2 separate regions of the Homo sapiens genome follow, and region 2 is linked to region 1. The links come from fine-mapping of genetic effects on gene expression. A gene starts in region 1. The other region holds a variant in brackets. All regions are shown on one strand. Distances are from middle to middle.

Region 1 (8,327 bases):
TCGCTAGAGCTCACAAAAGCACCCAGAGTTACTCCGCAAAAGGAGCACGGCTCCAAGGTGCTGTTCAGACCTGATCCACAGCACCTGATTCCCGAAGGGCCTGTCACCTTCCCAGGCTGGCCTTGACTCAGGAAAAGCCTGTGGTGCTGCTGGAGCCTTTGGCCCAGTGGGCAGGACCCAAGCTGCCCACTGGACCCTCTCCGGTTGTTGGGACAACCATCCTCAGGAATTTCGGCCTCCCAGTCTTCCCCTGGGTGAGAAGGGGAGAGAGTTGGCAAGGCTGGCTGCTTGGCTGCTCTTCCAACCCCCTGGTGAAAGGGGAAGCTGAAAACTGGATTCCCTACCCCCAGCAGCTCCTGGCCGGCCAGCACACAAAACAGCTCAGCCCCAGAGGGAGGAATGTGCCAAGACATTCTTTAGGGTTGGTAACCAGAGACGCTATTTTGTCCTTGGTGGCTAAGAAATCACTTTTCTGACTGAAGGACCATTTGACTTACTTCTTTTAAATTCAGGGGAATGGGTGGGCATCTCCATGATTCAGGTAAGGAAAAATCCAAGGCAAATAAACACACACACACACACACACACACACACACACACACGGAGTAGAAATTTTTAGTGCAATTTTTTGTCTCACAGCATTAATTAATTGCAGGGATATAACTACCTTGGCAGAATTTTTTCTCCCCAACCCACCACCCCCCGGAATAAGTTTGGCTCTTTTCAGCTTTGTTAAATTTCTTCTTCCTTTTTCTCATAGCCCATCCCTGTTCCCCCTTCTCCTCTCATGGAGTCTGGAGAGGTAAGAGCGGCAGAAGGGTTTGAAATAATATTTAAGAGCTGGCAGGCCCTTGAAGACCATCTAACCAACCCACTTCTCAAGCACTCAAACCTCAGAGAGGTCAAGTGATTTGCCCAAGGCCACACAGACAGAACTAAAAGGCAAAAATGGGGTATGCCGGAGGGAAATTCCAGAAAACCACAAGTGGCTATCCTCCAATTAGCACTTTTCCAAAACATACAAAGCTGGACCACAATAGTGACCCCCAGAGTTGACATGAGACCCCCTCAGGACCCCAAGTTCAGGGGCCCAATACCACCCCAGTCCAGGTGGGATGACAAGGAGGTACAGAGATGAAGTTTATAAACCAGTGACCCAAGGCCAAGCGTGGTGGCTCACGCCTGTAATCCTAGCACTTTGGGAGGCTGAGGTGGGCGGATTGCCTGAGCTCAGGAGTTCAAGACTAGCCTGGGCAACACAGTGAAACCCCATCTCTACTAAAATACAAAAAATTGGCTGGATGTGGTGGCGTGCACCTGTAGTCCCAGCTACTCGGGAGGTTGAGGCAGGAGAATCGCTTGAACCCAGGAGGCAGACTTGCAGTGAGCCAAGATCGCACCACTGGACTCCAGCCTGGGCGACAGAGCGAGACTCTGTCTCCAAAAAACAAAAACAAATAAACAAAAAAACCAAAAGCAAACAAAAAAACCAATGACACAAGATGAAGAAGGTGAGCTGCTCACCTAAGTGCCACTATGTTTCTGCCGCCTCTCCATGGCTTGCCAATCTGCTTAAAAACAAAGGCTGGGCAGGTGAGGTGCTGTGGCCTTAGGCTGGCCACAGTACCTAGCTAAAATATACTAACCCTGGTTTTTTGTTTTTTTTGTTTGCCTATCTTTTTTGTTTCCCCTGTATGACAATAGATATAACTAGTTTCCCATTTGTGAAAATGGTACACATATTTTTAAAGTGAGTTGATCTAAAGTCAAGGAGTAAGTAAGCAATAGCACAGGTGGATATAGCAAAAAAAAATCATGGAGGTGGTCCATGTAACACTAAAATTTGGGAGATTGTGCTCCAGCCAATCAGTTCTTCATAGAAGCTACTTACTTACCCTTTTCCAAGGGTAAAGAATTACTGTTGAGAGGGGCCTCCTATTGCTGTATTAGAAGTCCCCAGATGCATGATTATCAGTGTTGGCAGGGGCGGTCCTTTCCCTCCAACAGGACGTCCACCTGCTAACAGCACACAGGCCTCCGTAAACTACAGGGACCTAAATTGGGGCAGGTCACATATGTTTGAACTTGTGTCTGTTCTGAGAAAAGGACAAGAGAAAAGGTGCTGCCAAGTTCACCAACACAGTAGCAGAGCTGGCAACTGACCCGAGTAAGGGTGGGGAAGCAGTGTGTCAGGGTGACAAGTTTGCAGGTTAGAACTTCAGAGCTGGTGAAGAACTGGTACGCAGAATGGCAGAAAAATCAAAATACTTGAGCAAATCACACCTCTGGGCTTCAAATTTTCTCTTATGTTTCAAATGGGAGTTGGGCGCTGATGTACGTCCCTTCCAAGTTTTAAGCATCCCAATATTCCCTTCCAAGCAAACTTTTTAAATTCAGGGAAATGGTGGGCTCCCCCATCTGACAAACAGGGAAACTGAGGCTCAGAGGTTGAAGCAGCTTGCCTAAGAGATGCTCTCTAGCACTAAATATTTACCTTCCAGATTACATTCATGAGACATTCAGCATGGTGCTGAGTGTAGAGGAGGCATCCAGGAAGCGCTGAATGAACGAATGAATGAATGAATGAAAGTAAGTGCTCCCAGAAACTACCGAGAATCTCAACTCTCATTTTCTTTCCGCTTATATTCTTTTTTTGACCCACATCTTGCTACATACACTTCTGGGACACCTCCACCCCCACCACACAAGATGAAGAGTCCAAGAAATTCACCTTGGTTGCTTTACAGGGACCTGACCCCCAAGGTCACAGACAAGGTTTAAAGTCCGCATTCCCCAAGACACTCTGCCCACAGACCGTGTCAACAACATCGTGGTCCGGGGACTCTAGGACATACATGGAGAGGGTGAATGTATGTGTGTGTGTGCAGCATGTGAGCAAAGAAATGCCAAACAACCAGGAGAAAGTCTGGAGAGGTAAGAGCCACACCGAGCTATCTCAGGCTCCATCTGCCTCTGCACATTATCTCAACCTACAGCGGCCTGGTACCCACCAAGGTCAGGTCCCGCTGGTGCAGGGCTGAGGAGCCTCGCCGCCCCCTTCCCCGATCAGGGAAGAAAGAGAGGAGAAAGAGGCGAGGGGCAAGGCTTTCCGGGAGGCCTCTCACCTCCATCTCCATCCTAACAGCTTCCAAGTTGCTGCCAGATTCCTGGATAACCAGTCTCCCTCATCTGCCCTCCCCCGCTTCTTCACTTCCTCCCCACCCTCGGGTTCCAGGGCCCCCTGGCTGCCCCTGTGCTGTTCTCAGCAGCTTCCAAGGCACCTGTCAAAAAGCACACCTCAGGTTGCCTTCCTCTGCGCCGAGTGCCCTCTCTCCAGTGGTCTCCCACGGAATCCTGGGGTCTTGACCACCCCCTCTAACCGGACACTTCCCCATCCCCATCCGCCCACCCCCCACGCTGGGTGGAAGCCTCCCCGGGAAGACCCGGCTTCACCCGGCTAGGTCGCTCCCCCAACCCCCGCCCCCGCCCGACCTCTCTTCCTAAAGGGGGCGGGCGGGGCTAGAGCTTAAGGTCAAAACTCCGGGCAGGTGCCGGCTGGGGCCTAAGTCCTCCAACTGGGGATGGCGGTGGGGCAGCCTGGGCCAGCTCCCCGGCAGGCGCCTCCTCTCGGTGGCCCACTGAGGCGGGAGCAGCGCTCCAGAAGGTTGGGGGGAGCAGGGGGTGGCGAACTGAAGAGAGCTCAAGAGGCACGCAGAGCTCCCCTGCCCCCTCCCAGTCCCGGCCGGCGGCTCCAGGGGCAGGTGGGGGCCCAGGCGGGGGTGTGGGGGCACGGAGGAGGGTTCCAGGGTCCTACCTGTCCCGCGGGTCGATCCAGCTGGTGGTGCGGTTCGTGTGGTCTATGTAGTAGACCTTGCCGTCGAAGTCGCGCGCCTCCTCCCAGCCCTCCGGCAGGGGCAGCTCCGGCCGGGGCATCTTCCCAAGCGCTGCCGGCGCTCCCCCATGCAGCTCCCGGCCGCAGCGGGGGCTCAGCGGCTCCAGCCGGCCGCTCTTAGCCCGGGCGGCCGCCGAGGCACCATGATCCGGGGGGTGGCGCCCGCAGATGGGGGGCCCTAGTAGGGGCCGGCCGGGGTGGCGCCGCTGTCCATGCGGCCCTGCAGCCCCGACCCGGCGCCGCCCGCTCCTCCCGCCGCCGGCCTCTCACGCTGCCATGTGCGTCCGCAGCGGCGCGGTGCGAGCCCGGGTGCGCGCCCAGCCGGCCGGGCAGAGCGAGCCGAGCGCCGCCGCCGCCGCCGTCTGCCCTCCTCCGCCGCGCGGCGCGCTGCGCCCTCCACGCCGCCGCTGCCGCTGCCGCCTCCCTCCTCCCTGCAGCCGGGTGCCGTCCCTCCTCTCCGCTCCACCGCTCTGAGCTCGCCGGGTTTGTGACTTCTGCCTCCGCCAGGTGCGGCTCGGGCGGTGCAGGTAACCGCGCTGCCCCGGAAACGGGAGGCGGAGCGCCGGGCGCCTGGGTTCCCGGGTCCCCTCCCCGCGCGCAGCGCCTCGAGGGCGGGTCCTAGGGCCCGAGACGCGCCCCCTCGTGGGACAGTCCCAGCCGCCGGCCACCCTTACGCTGCCCCTGCCAGGGGAAGGAGAGACCGCCCCTCACCTGCGTCCCAGACCTAGGGGGCTGGGCCAAAAACCGCTCTGCCTGTACTTAAAACGCTCCTGTCTCTCTCCACCCGGAGTAGCCAGGCTCTCGGCACAGGTGGCCCCAAATCTTAAAAACTCCCTGCTTTTCTGTGGTGTAGAATCAGGAGTCAGGCAAGAAGTGGTTAAATGGAAACATTCTTGCGAATTGGGAAACATAAGTTTTCCAGGATCTCTGGTCCCTTCCCCCAACACAGGCACCATCTGTCTCCTTCTATTCAACTCTCCCTACGACGTTTCGCCCACCCTCCACCCTTCCCCACCATTTGGAAATGTAGCTGGCTCCCCTCAGGGTCCCTAAAATTAGGAGCGCTGTGGATCCGCTTTCCTGGGAGGACTTCCAGAGGGTGTCAGGGAAAACACTTTGTAAAAGTAATAGTAATGCCATTGTTATTGTTAGCTAAATTGAGGACTTACTTGTGACAGGCTGTGGCTAGCAGCTTCACAGGCTTTCTTTCCTGTGATACTTTGAGGTAGGTGTGTTATGGATTTGGGAGAAGTGGGGCTATGAAAAAGAAGAAAGTAAGCAAAGCAAAATTCCATCTTGAAAAATGTTCAAGAGAATAAAACAATCAGAGACACAATGTTTCTTGAGAAATTAAAAATGTAGAATTAGTGGGTGCGGTGGCTCACGCCTGTAATCCCAGCACTTTGGGAGGGTGAGGCAGACAGATTACCTGAGGTCAGGATTTCAGACCAGCCTGGCCAACATAGTGAACCCCATCTCTACTAAAAAATAATAATAATAAATTAGCTGGGCGTGGTGGTGCACGCCCGTAGTCCCAGCTACTCGGGAGGCTGAGGCATGAGAATCACTTCAACCTGGGAGGTGGAGGTTGCAGTGAGCCAAGATCGCACCACTGCACTCCAGCCTGGGCAACAAAGCGAGACTCTGTCTCAAATAAATAAATAAATAAATTTAAAATGTAGCATTAAATACAAAAAGCAAGCTAGCATGATTGAGTGAATGATCAACTGGCTGTTCACTTCCCCATCTCCTCTTACATCTGTGTACTGAGTGGGAATTTAACCCTTTTTTGCCCTCGGCATATGGCAGGAAGCTGGACTGGTCGAATGAAGCCCAGTTGGGTGTCTTCTCTTGCCTGAGCCCCACGGTCTTCCAGAAGAACCAGCACCCTGTGCTGTATGGACCAGGGTGTTGCTGAGCCAGAGAGGGAATCATGTTTGTGGTCTCATCTCCTCTTGACAGAAAAGACCCACCAGAGTGAGCCTCGCCTCCAAATGCCTTCTTCATAGTTAATTCCTTCCCTGAGGCCAGGCCTCGGGGCTCAGTGCTTGGCCCTCCTTCATTCCATAAATACCAGGCACCAGAGTCCAGGGACACCAGCCTCAGACTGGCCCTCAACACCCAAAAGTTGGAATTCCCCATTCCTTTATGGGGGAATTCCCACAGCCCTCTACACTTCCTCTGTTTGGGTCAAGCCTTTACTACATAAAAACCCACTATTGATTAGAGCAGTAGCCCCAAAGCAAAGCCAACCTGGTGCTAGGTTCTTTGAATACATGATCTCAATCTTCATAACAACCCTCTGGCATAGGAAAGTCTATTTATTATACCCATTTTACAGATGAGGCTCCAAGATGCTTTGTTGTTGGCCTGGGATACAGAGCTCATAAGACAGACTAGGTCTGACTCTAGTGCAGTGTTCTCAGTTATTAACCTATACTTTCTTTTTTTCTTTTTTTGAGATGGAGTCTCCCCCCATCCCCCAGGCTGGAGTGCAGTGGCATGATCTCGGCTCACTACAACCTCTGCCTCCCAGATTCAAGCAATTCTCCTGCCTCAGCTTCCAGAGTAGCTGGGATTACAGGCCTGCGCCACCACGCCCAGCTAATTTTTGTATTTTTCAGTAGAGCTGGAGTTTCACCATATTGGCCAGGCTGGTCTCGAACTCCTGACCTCAGGTGATCCGCCCACCTCAGCCTCCCAAAGTGCTGGGCTTACAGACATGAGCCACCTTGCCTGGCTGACTTTCTTTCTTTCTTTCTTTTTATTTTTGAGACGGAGTCTCGCTCTGTCACCCAGATTGGAGACTTTCTTTCTTTTTTAAATCACTCTGCAGCCTCAGAACTTCCCCATGGTTGGGATGTGGAACATGACTGATACTGACAAATGTTCATCTCTGTTGATGTTTGCTTCATAGTTTTTTGGTTGAGAAGCAAGAGCTCTAGAATCAGGCTGTTTGGGTCCCAAGCCCACCCGGTTTTCTAGCTGTGTGACCTTGGGCAGCTTGCTTCACTGAAGTCTCAGTCTTTGATTTGAAAAAAAATCACATAACAATATGGACTCCTTTGGGCTTGTGGTTAGGGCAAAGCAGGAGGAGAAATGTGAGGGCTTGGCACTCAGCAGCACGCCTTCATCTCAGGGGCTGTGGTGCGGTGCATTCGGAGCACCGTGCCTGGCAGCAGACACACCTCTATGAAATGTGGACCATTTGAAGTATTTTCTGTTCAAAACACAAATCCACGTCCTTTCCCCTTCTGAAAATTATGCCTGCTTGCTTGCAACAGTCCTCCTAATTGCTGATTTTTTTTTTTTTGGCCTTATTTTTCAACCAAGCCTTTTTACTGGTTGGCATTGATTGTGAAGAGAAAACACCTTTTAGACTGCCAAGTCCCACTTTCGTTTTAGTCCAGCCACCCAAACCCTGGCATTTTCCAAATGGCTTGCTTCTTTGGACCTTTTGACCTGGCCTGGGAAGCAAGAAAGAGAGACCAGAGCAGGAATTGACTCCTGAATTAAGGCCTAGGTCTGTTCGCTCTTTTTACCTCCCATCCACCCCCAACGAAAGAATCCCAGGTTATCTCGCAGAAGCGGCAAGCAGGGTGAGGTAATAAAACAGATGACTGCCTGCCCCATGTGATGGCGCGTGAATCATCCCGGACATTCTGCGAGGCTGAGGGCAAACGTGAAAGAGATTAAAGGTAAAACCGGCTCAGCCACATGATAGGCTGAATTGGACGTTACTCTACAGGTGACTGAACTGCAGGAATCCGAACTGAAGACAAGAAGCCCAGCCCTCTCCTGGCCACCCTCCTGGGGCTGCGTCTGGCTGCCCGCGTGTGGAGTTGAAGGAGACAGGCTTGGGCAGTGTTGGGCAGTGCAGAAGTGACCACAGGCCAAGCCTTTCTAATGACAAAGGCCACATCCCGGTGGCCCAGAGGAATCACCTGAGCCTGAGACAGGCTGTCTTGTTTTTAAAAACGATGCGCACTTGAACCCTTTTCTCCACTGCAACTGCAGGGAAGAAAGGCCGTTATCCACACGTGTTTTAGAGTGTTTCAGAGAGCCAGAGTCACATATTCCATGAAGATGGTAAAGAGGAGAAATTAAATATAAAACAAAGGAACAGATATGTTAGCAAGTCCAGTTTCCTGTTCGCATCTGCATTCTTCAGGGGAAACTGAGGCTTTGAGAACCTCTGCTGAGATTTTGCTTCCTGCTCCATGACTCTACCTCCCTACCTCATGCCGTCCCTCCCACACATCCTGGGGAATGCACAGTTATGTTCTATGATGGAGCCAATAATGTCCCCTTTCTTGAGTCATGCATTATTTGAGGTTCATAAATGTACTGTGGACTCTTTTTTTCCAATGATGGGAAAACACGTCCTAAGCCAGAGAAAATGAGGGTGGAAGAAACCTTGGTAACACGAGAGCCG
Region 2 (8,327 bases), 69 kb before region 1:
CTTCTTCCTTTAATTCAGTTTGGTTCAGACTCTTTTACTCATTGTCTAACAAATCTGGGCATGATAAAAATAACCATCTCTCAAGTTTGTTAGGAGAGCTGAGCACATGACACACAGCAGAGCCTTCGTTAACACCAGCTACAGAGGAAAGAGACAGATAGGGCCCTGCCCTTACAGTCTAGAGGGCGAGATGCACCCCAGCCAGAAGCAAATCAAGAGGGCCATTTCAGAGAGATCCATGCTATTCAGGTGAAGTGGAGGCGGAGGTCAGCTTTGGCGGCTCTGGGGCCTGGGTATGCACTTTGGATTATTCCTCTGACCACTGCCCTTGTGTTGAGCTGGAGGGTGACCCAGAGACACTCTCTGCCTCACCCTCCACTCTCATCCTTCCACCCTCATTTCAATCAATCCACCAAGCAACAAGCATTTATCAAGTGAGTATGGCACTCCAGGCCCATGCTAGGCACTACGAGGGCTCAGACGCTTGAAGAAGCCATGTTTCTGCTTCCAGGGGCAGAGGGTCTGGCCGGGGAACAAGACTCACACTCCAAACAGGCAGGGAGTCATCCCCACAACATTCCATGGGAGTGTATGTGGCTGTAACGCTACCCGCGGCCTGAGCCACAGGTAATTAGAGGATGCAGGGATATTTAATAAGGTGCTACGTCAGCAGTATAGACGCGAAAGGCCAACGGGCCATGGGCAGGGAGAGAATGCAGCAATGGGGTGTAGTCAGGGAGGGCTGGGGAGGGGAGGAGGAAAGAGCTGTGGTCAGCTCCATGGTTAAGGAGGAGGCAGGGTAGATGTTACCCACAAAGGCTCAGGAATGGGATGCGAGGCTGAAACCCAGGCTCCACCTCTTCCAGAACTGTAGGTGGGTTATGTAACCTGCTTGAGAGGAGTTTTCTTCTCTGTGAAACTTACACAGGAAGGCCCACTCTCATAAGGGTGTTGTGGGGATTAAATGAGATAACCTATACAGTATCTAGTGCCGGGACTGGCACAAGACAAGCCCTTGATAAATGTGGGTTGCAAACATAATCAGAGAGTTCTGCGCGTTGTGAAGAATCACATCACCCTTTATCTCAAATCCTTAACACGTGAGCTATCATCACCACCATCACCACACCCACCATTATCAGTCTTCACCCTAAGAGATACACGGTGGTGGTTAAAACTCACAAGTCTGGAGTCAGCCATCTGGGTCCCAATGCAGGCACTGTCACTCATTAGCTCTGTCCCCTTGGGCATGAACTCTAACCTGTGTGGCTTTGTTTCCTCATCCATAAGATGGGGGTGCTCAAAGTCACCGCTGCGTTAAAATGGGCTGTGCTGACCACATGGCATTCAGGGTTCAATCTACATTGGCTGTTAGGATGAGTTAGGTTTTATACCCCGATTTTCATGATGGGGAAACTGAAGCAAAATAATTGTCCTGGCTTGCACAGCTAATAAACCTTGCACTGTATTCTATCACCTCCCTTCCTGGAGGAGCTGGGACTGCTTAAACCATCTTTTTTTTTTTTTTTTTTTTTTTGAGACAGAGTCTGGCTCTGTCACCCAGGCTGGAGTACAGTGGCGTGATCTAAGCTCACTGCAATCTCTACCTCCCAGGGTTCAAGTGATTTTCCTGCCTCAGCCTCCTGAGTAGCTGGGACTACAGGTGCCCGCCACCATGCCGGGCTAATTTTTGTACTTTTAGTAGAGGCGGGATTTCCCCATGTTTGTCAGTCTGGTCTCAAACTCCTGACCTCAAGTGATCCTCCTGCCTCGGCCTCCCAAAATTCTGGGATTACAGGTGTGAGCCACCACACCTGGCTTCCTCTCTCTTTTTAGAAAGTTAAATGGGAGAAGGTAGGAGACAGTAGCTGAATTGGATTTGGTTCTCAAAATCTGCTCTCTGAAGGAGGAGGCATTTATACCTGGAATTCCCAAGTTCTTCTTCTCGTAAACACTTCCCTTCCTCTTGTTCTCTACCCTCCGAACACCTGTCTCAAAATTCTGGCTTTTCCACCCTTAGATCTCCTTGTTTCCCTACTCTGTTTGGGCTGGCTTACCCAGAAGTTTTCTTGGCCTAGTTATTCCCATCCTAAAATTCTTTTATAGAAAAAAGAAGAGGAGGGAGGGCTGGAGGGGAGATTCCAGACGGTTCCTCCACCCCAAACCCTCCCTACCTTCAGACTAGGCCCCCACAAACCAGTGGCTCACCTCCCCACTGCCAAATCTTGGATTCTGTCTTCCCTCTGCCCTGCTGGGTTGGTGAGATCACACACCTGTGCCCTTTGGGTCCATCCCCTTCCTTCACCTCCATCTTGAGTCTCTATGCTTATCTGTTCCCACTCACTGACATGGGGTGAATCCAGGCTGCTAATCCCCTCTGTGTGCTGCCTGTTGGGTTTAAGATTTCAGTTCTGAGAACCAAATCATGGATTAGAGTAGGTAAAGCCAACGGACAACCTGAGGGCCAAATTCAGCCTGAAGATATGTTTGTTGATCTACTACAGTGCTATATTTTAAAAACGGACTTAGCACACCTTTGGGGACAGGCACTGTCTGGATGCACTTTGTCCCCATTGCTTTCTAATGTGTCACTCCTGCCTCTTGGTTAAGAGCAGAGGGCTCTGGAGCCAGACTCACTGGCTTTGAATCCAGGCTCTGTCATTTTCTAGCTGTGTGACCTTGGACAAGATATGTAAACTCTATGTGGCTCAGTTGTCACATTTGCAAAACAGGAAAAATAAGAACACATATACTGAGCACTCACTATGCACCAGCAACTGTTCCAAGCAGTTAATGTATTTATATATTTACTCAGCTGGCCTTCACAACAGCCCTTTCAGGCAGGTACCATTCAGACCTGCCCCACAGTGCTCCTTGAAGCTTACATGAGATAATGCATGAAACAGCACATGAGTACACAGTGAGTGCTTGATAAATGTGAGTGATTCGTTTTTCATTTATTTATTTATTTATCTTTTGAGATGGAGTTTCACTCTTGTTGCCCAGGCTGGAGAGCATTGGCACGGTCTAGGCTCACTGCAACCTCTGCCTCCCGGGTTCAAGCGATTCTCCTGCCTCAGCCTCCCAAGTAGCTGGGACCACAGGCGCCTGCCACCATGCCCGGCTAATTTTTTCTATTTTTAGTAGAGATGGGGTTTCACCATGTTGGCCAGGCTGGTCTCAAACTCCTGACCTCATGTGATCCACCTACTTCAGCCTCCCAAAGTGCTGGGATTACAGGCGTGAGCCACCGCACCCAGTGATTTATTTTTCACACTGCTGCCCAAATGAGGCCCCCAACGTAGAGAATGTTAAAATTAAAAGAAACCCAACAAAACAACTCCCTTTCTTTACCAATGAGGAAACTGAGGGACAGAGATAAAAGACTTGCCTGGAGCCACCCAAGGACCCAGGGGACCTGGGGACCAACTCCAGCCCTGCATCACATAATGCCAGGAGATCAAATCAGCTTGGTGCTGGGCTTGGCTCCATTTGAAATTCAATAAGCATCTGAACAGCCTCCAAGAAATAGGTATTGATAGCATTTTCCCAGGCTAACTAACCCTATTATACCGAATGAGACTGATCATTGGGTAGGAACCAAGATGGAGAACTATGAAGCTCCCATTCATGGAGAGACGAGGTTGGGAGGTGGGCTCTTCATTTTTCTCATTACCTACTTGGAAGGTAATTTCCTAAAAGCCCCACACCACAGTAGAATGAAGACCCTGGAATATCTTTTTGCTCCTCACCCTGCTCAACCCCAGCTTCATCCTCATTCCTGAATTATGAGTTAGGCTATGGAAGCTCTGTGCCCTAAAGAAAAAGCCAACAGAACCAGAGAGGACTCCCAGTTCCATCCTTCCTAGCTGTGTAATCTCAGTCCATTCCTTCCCCCAGGTCTGAGCCTCAGTTTTCCTGCAGGTATAGAGCAGACAAGAAAACCTGCTTCCCAGGTTCTTGCATTCATTCATGCACGGA[C/G]AAGACTCAACACAGCACCTGGCACACAACCCCAGGCAGGCCTGCAGCCCTACTCCTTTCTGTATTTAGGACTCTGGGGACACTCAACTCCCAGCCTTATTCCTTCCAGCCTCATGAGCTGGGTTCCCAAGGGCTCTTCCCAGGTGCTGGGCTGTCTAGAAGCCTCATCAGCAGTAACTGCAGAGGCAGCAGCTCACCCTGTCCTGGAATTTGGCCATTCCAGAATCTTCTGCTCCTTGAGCTCTGACCCTTACCACACAGCTTGAGGAGCTGGTCCTTCTAGAAATGGAATTGACCGTGAAGACTTTTCTGAGATCCTGTCTGACTTGGGGCCCCTCCCAAGACTGCATGGTTTAGACAGAGCACTGGAAGAAGAATGATGAGATCTGGGTTTGAAGCCTGACGATGCCCTTGGGCAAGGCACTCCTGTTGCTGGACCTTAACCCTTTCTCTTGGTCTTTCCCACCTGCAAAACAGAGGAAGCTAGAATTTAACACCCCTAAGGCACCCTCTGCAGCTTTAGTCTAATACCTGGCCAACCTGTCCCAAAGGTCAGGGCAGCTTCCACTTAAGGCCAGTGAAGCACTAGGCACAGGACCATATGCTCCATGTAAAATAGATCGCTTCCTTTATTCTAACAATATTTCTGTGAGGCAGGTACAATCACCCCAATTTCACCAACAGGAAACTGAGGCTTAATAGTAATAGCAATAATAATAATAAAAGCAAAATTTCATTGAGTATTTGCAAAATGCCAGGCACTATCCAATGTCCCTTACATAGACCCTATTTCACCAAAAGATGCACATTTTTAAACACATTCAGCATTTTCTGAAACTCTGATGTATGCTACTACTACTGACATCTTACAACTGATATCACCTAGGCTGCAGTCCTGATGGAGCTGTCACTGCCTGTGTGTGCACATATATCAAAGGCATCAGCACTGCCACTGGTGGAACGGGTGCTACAGGCTTGGGATAAAAATCCCACAGACAAGACATTGAGGAATTCAAAAATTCCTCAATAAAGTTGTAAGCACTTTTAACCCCTAGGAACCAAATGGTTGTGGAAAGGTGTGGAGAAGGTATGCAACAGACCTGTTTAGCAACATTCCCAAAGCAGGACTCTTAAGCTGGCTACCTCTACAGAATTGCCAAGCTTTGAGTCCCTTTTTGTGGGTCTTTATAACAAGGCTGTATGACTAACACTCTTAAGGGCACAAAGGACAATATTAAAAGCACAGACATTAATAACTCAGCTAAAAAGCTACTCCGAAGAACTGGATTCTGAATGGGAAGACACTGTAGGAATACCAGAGTTTTATTTTTCTCATATATTCCTTTGTGGGTTTTTTACACATACAAGTGATATGTGAGTTAAAAAAGAAAAAACAAAAAAAACTAACCTTGAAAAATGTATTTCAACAAATATAAAATAAGCATTCTAATTACATAAAAACATTGGGACATAGTTTAATTGGCACAATTTCCCTTTCTTATGGCACATACAATAATGGTGCTTCTTAAAATCAATATTATCTTTATTTATAAAAACCCCAAGCTAGAAACAATCCATATGTCCATCAATAGGTAAATGGATAGACAACTGTGGTACAGCCAAACAACAGAATACTACTCAGCAATAAAAAGGAATAAACTATTAAAATATGCAGTAATGAAGATTAATTTCAGACACATATTAGGTAAAAAACTCTATAGTGTATAGGCCAGACGTGGTGGCTCACGCCTCTAATCCCAGCACTTGGGGACGTTGAGGTGGGTGGATCACCTGAGCTCAGGAGTGCAACACTAGCCCGGGCAACATGGTGGAACCCTGTCTCTCCAATACAAAAAAATTAGCCAGACATGGTGGCGCGTACCTGTAGTCCCAGCTACTTGGGAGGTGGAGGTGAGAGGATCCTTGGAGCTGAGGAAGTAGAGGTTGCAGTGAACCCAGATCGTGCCACTGCACTCCAGCCTGGGTGACAGAGTGAGAGTCTGTCTCGAACACACACACACACACACACACACACACACACACACACCCCACCACCACCAACAACAACAAAAACCATATATTGTGTGATTCCATTTATATGAAATTCTAGAAAAAACAAATTAACTACAGGGGCAGAAAGCAGGTCAGTGGTTGCCTGGGGAGGAGGGTTAGAGGGAGAGGATTACAGAGGGGCACAAGAAAAGTTTTGGAGATAAGGTTTGTTATACTGATTATGATGAGGAGTTCCTACATGTGTACGTATACATGTATGTATGTGTACATATATATATATATATGCGTGTCAAAGCTCATAAAATTGTTTAAACACATACCATTTAGTAGACTTCAAAAATTCCTCAATAAAGTTGTAAGAAAAAAGAAAATCGTCAATTCAATGCAACATATTAGCTTATTTAAAACAATCTTATACACAGTATTATTAGCTCCATTTTATAGATGTAGAAACTGAGGCACAGAGAGGTTAACTGGTTCATCCAAGGACACTCAGCTAGTTGAGAGGCAAATCCAACTGGTATCAATCCTCAGCTATACTACTGAGTGGCTGTGGGCACCTTCCCAGCCCCTGGGCTGCTGTTTTCCCATCCCTACCATGAGATGACAAAGTGATGGCTACAGGACCTTTCAGCACTGAGTTTCCATGACTGTGTCCCAAGGATGTGTTTGGGGTCACGCAGCCAGAGGAGTGGATCCTTCTGGACACTCAGGTTCCCTGACACTCACCGAGCTCTCCTTGCCCATCCTCATTCATTCTCTGAACACACCTCCTGACATCTCCTTATTGTATACAATAAGTCATCCCTCCAGGACCACTGTATGAAGCCTTTTCTAAACTAAGCTGTGCATTGCCTACCAAAGGTGTCCTATCAGGGCCCCAGGGAGACATGACACTGTTTCCCCAGGTCACCCACCCAGATAGACAGGGCCTTCCTGAGACCTGTTCCGGATGCTGCAGCTGACATGTCTGGAAAACCACAAGCCAGCATGGCCCACCACATGCAAGGGTCCCAAGTCTGTGGATTCCCAAGTGTTTGCACACTCAGATTCCCAAGTGAACACATCACAGTGAGCAGGCTGCTCTAGCCAGAAGCTCGCCTTGTCTGCAACTCGACTGCTATTTCTTTGGTTTTTAGGACCACAGAGGCCTACAGTAACTGATTACAAAGGAGCTCTGCACAACAGTGGAAAAGAAACAGTTTTCGCCTCTGAAAAGTATGACTTGCTTTATGGGTTTTTCTCCCATCATTTCTTTTTAAAGAAGAAAATAAATAGAATGTTATTCCCTGAAGGGAAGCCCTACCTGCAAGTCAACATGAAACACCGAAGTGTTCTGAGCTGAAGGCGGCTGGAATAAAGTCAGCAGTGAAACAAATAAGCAATTAAAACAGCTATTTTGGGAAGCCCTAGAAAGAGGCAGATACAATATGAATTATTCATTCATACTGCGAGGATGACTTCTGGGCATTGTCCTCTTTGCCTTTGCTCTTCTCTTGTTCATTCAGCCTCTCAAGCACAGAAAGGGAACACAATACCCTGGCATGCACGCACGTGCATGCGTGCGCGCGCGCACACACACACACACACACACACACACACACACACACACACACACAGAAGGCAGGTTGCCACTCCAGATGGTGAACCACACGGAAAAGAAACCCACAGGTTGGCAGACGCTTTGAGCTCCAGTGCTGGGGAGAATGTATGAATTTCCAGTTGGCCCAAAAAGTGTGTGTGTGTGTGTGTGTGTGTGTGTGTAAGAGAGAAAGAGGAAGAAAAAGACAGTATCTTAATATCTTATTAACAGTTGTAACCTCAGCATCTTATGAGTGGGCACCAAATGAATGTTCACTGAATGAATAAATGAACTCACAAAAGAACAAAGAAAGAAAGATCTCATTGGAATTCCCAGCAGGGTTCACAGCTAGGCCCTCTACTTTCCAAATTTTGCTTGTCCCAACAAAGAGAAACTTGTGATTGAAGAAACATTTAAGGTCCTCAAGGTGCTTTTGGATTCTTGACCTTATTTGATACTCAAATAACCGTCACAACAGTGGCATCATGACCATCATGATTATTTCCCTGTTTTACAGATGACACTCAGAGACTTCCCACAACTGACAGGGCTCCCAGGGCCCTAGGTAGGGCCAGGATTATTGGATATGAGCCACCTGAGCCTTGGCCCACTGCTCCATCTCCTCCACCAGGAACCGTCTCCATGGGCTTCCCTTATTCCCAGCTGGTAACTGGAGAAGCGCGACAAGAGCCAATTCCCTTCCCCTGGGAATGCATAACCCACTGGGTAGCAAACAAGGCCTCTGTCTCCT

Alleles and levels. Alleles are on the strand shown, and positions count from the first base shown. SD is a standard deviation of normalised expression in the study named.
For the expression in unexposed skin of the gene that starts at base 4,441 in region 1, C is the high allele of the variant in region 2 and G is the other (small effect, 0.30 SD a copy in GTEx).

What was found. PIP is the estimated chance that this variant, and not a neighbour inherited with it, causes the effect.
Region 2: its variant is fine-mapped to the expression of WWC1 in unexposed skin (GTEx, PIP above 0.99). The same link has a PIP of 0.9 or more in esophagus mucosa and sun-exposed skin.

What each region holds. Positions count from the first base shown.
Region 1 is chr5:168,287,759-168,296,085 of GRCh38, reverse strand. It overlaps WWC1 (WW and C2 domain containing 1), which reads right to left and starts at 4,441. Exons shown (of 23, transcript NM_015238.3): 1 at 3,815-4,441. The coding sequence starts at 3,933. RefSeq lists silencers at 3,629-4,048, 4,149-4,668 and an enhancer at 5,813-5,892.
Region 2 is chr5:168,356,735-168,365,061 of GRCh38, reverse strand. The region is part of intron 1 of WWC1 (WW and C2 domain containing 1); the gene reads right to left. Among named protein-coding and RNA genes, the nearest start is that of WWC1, 69 kb to the right of the region's middle. The variant C/G (reference allele first, on the strand shown) is at 3,982.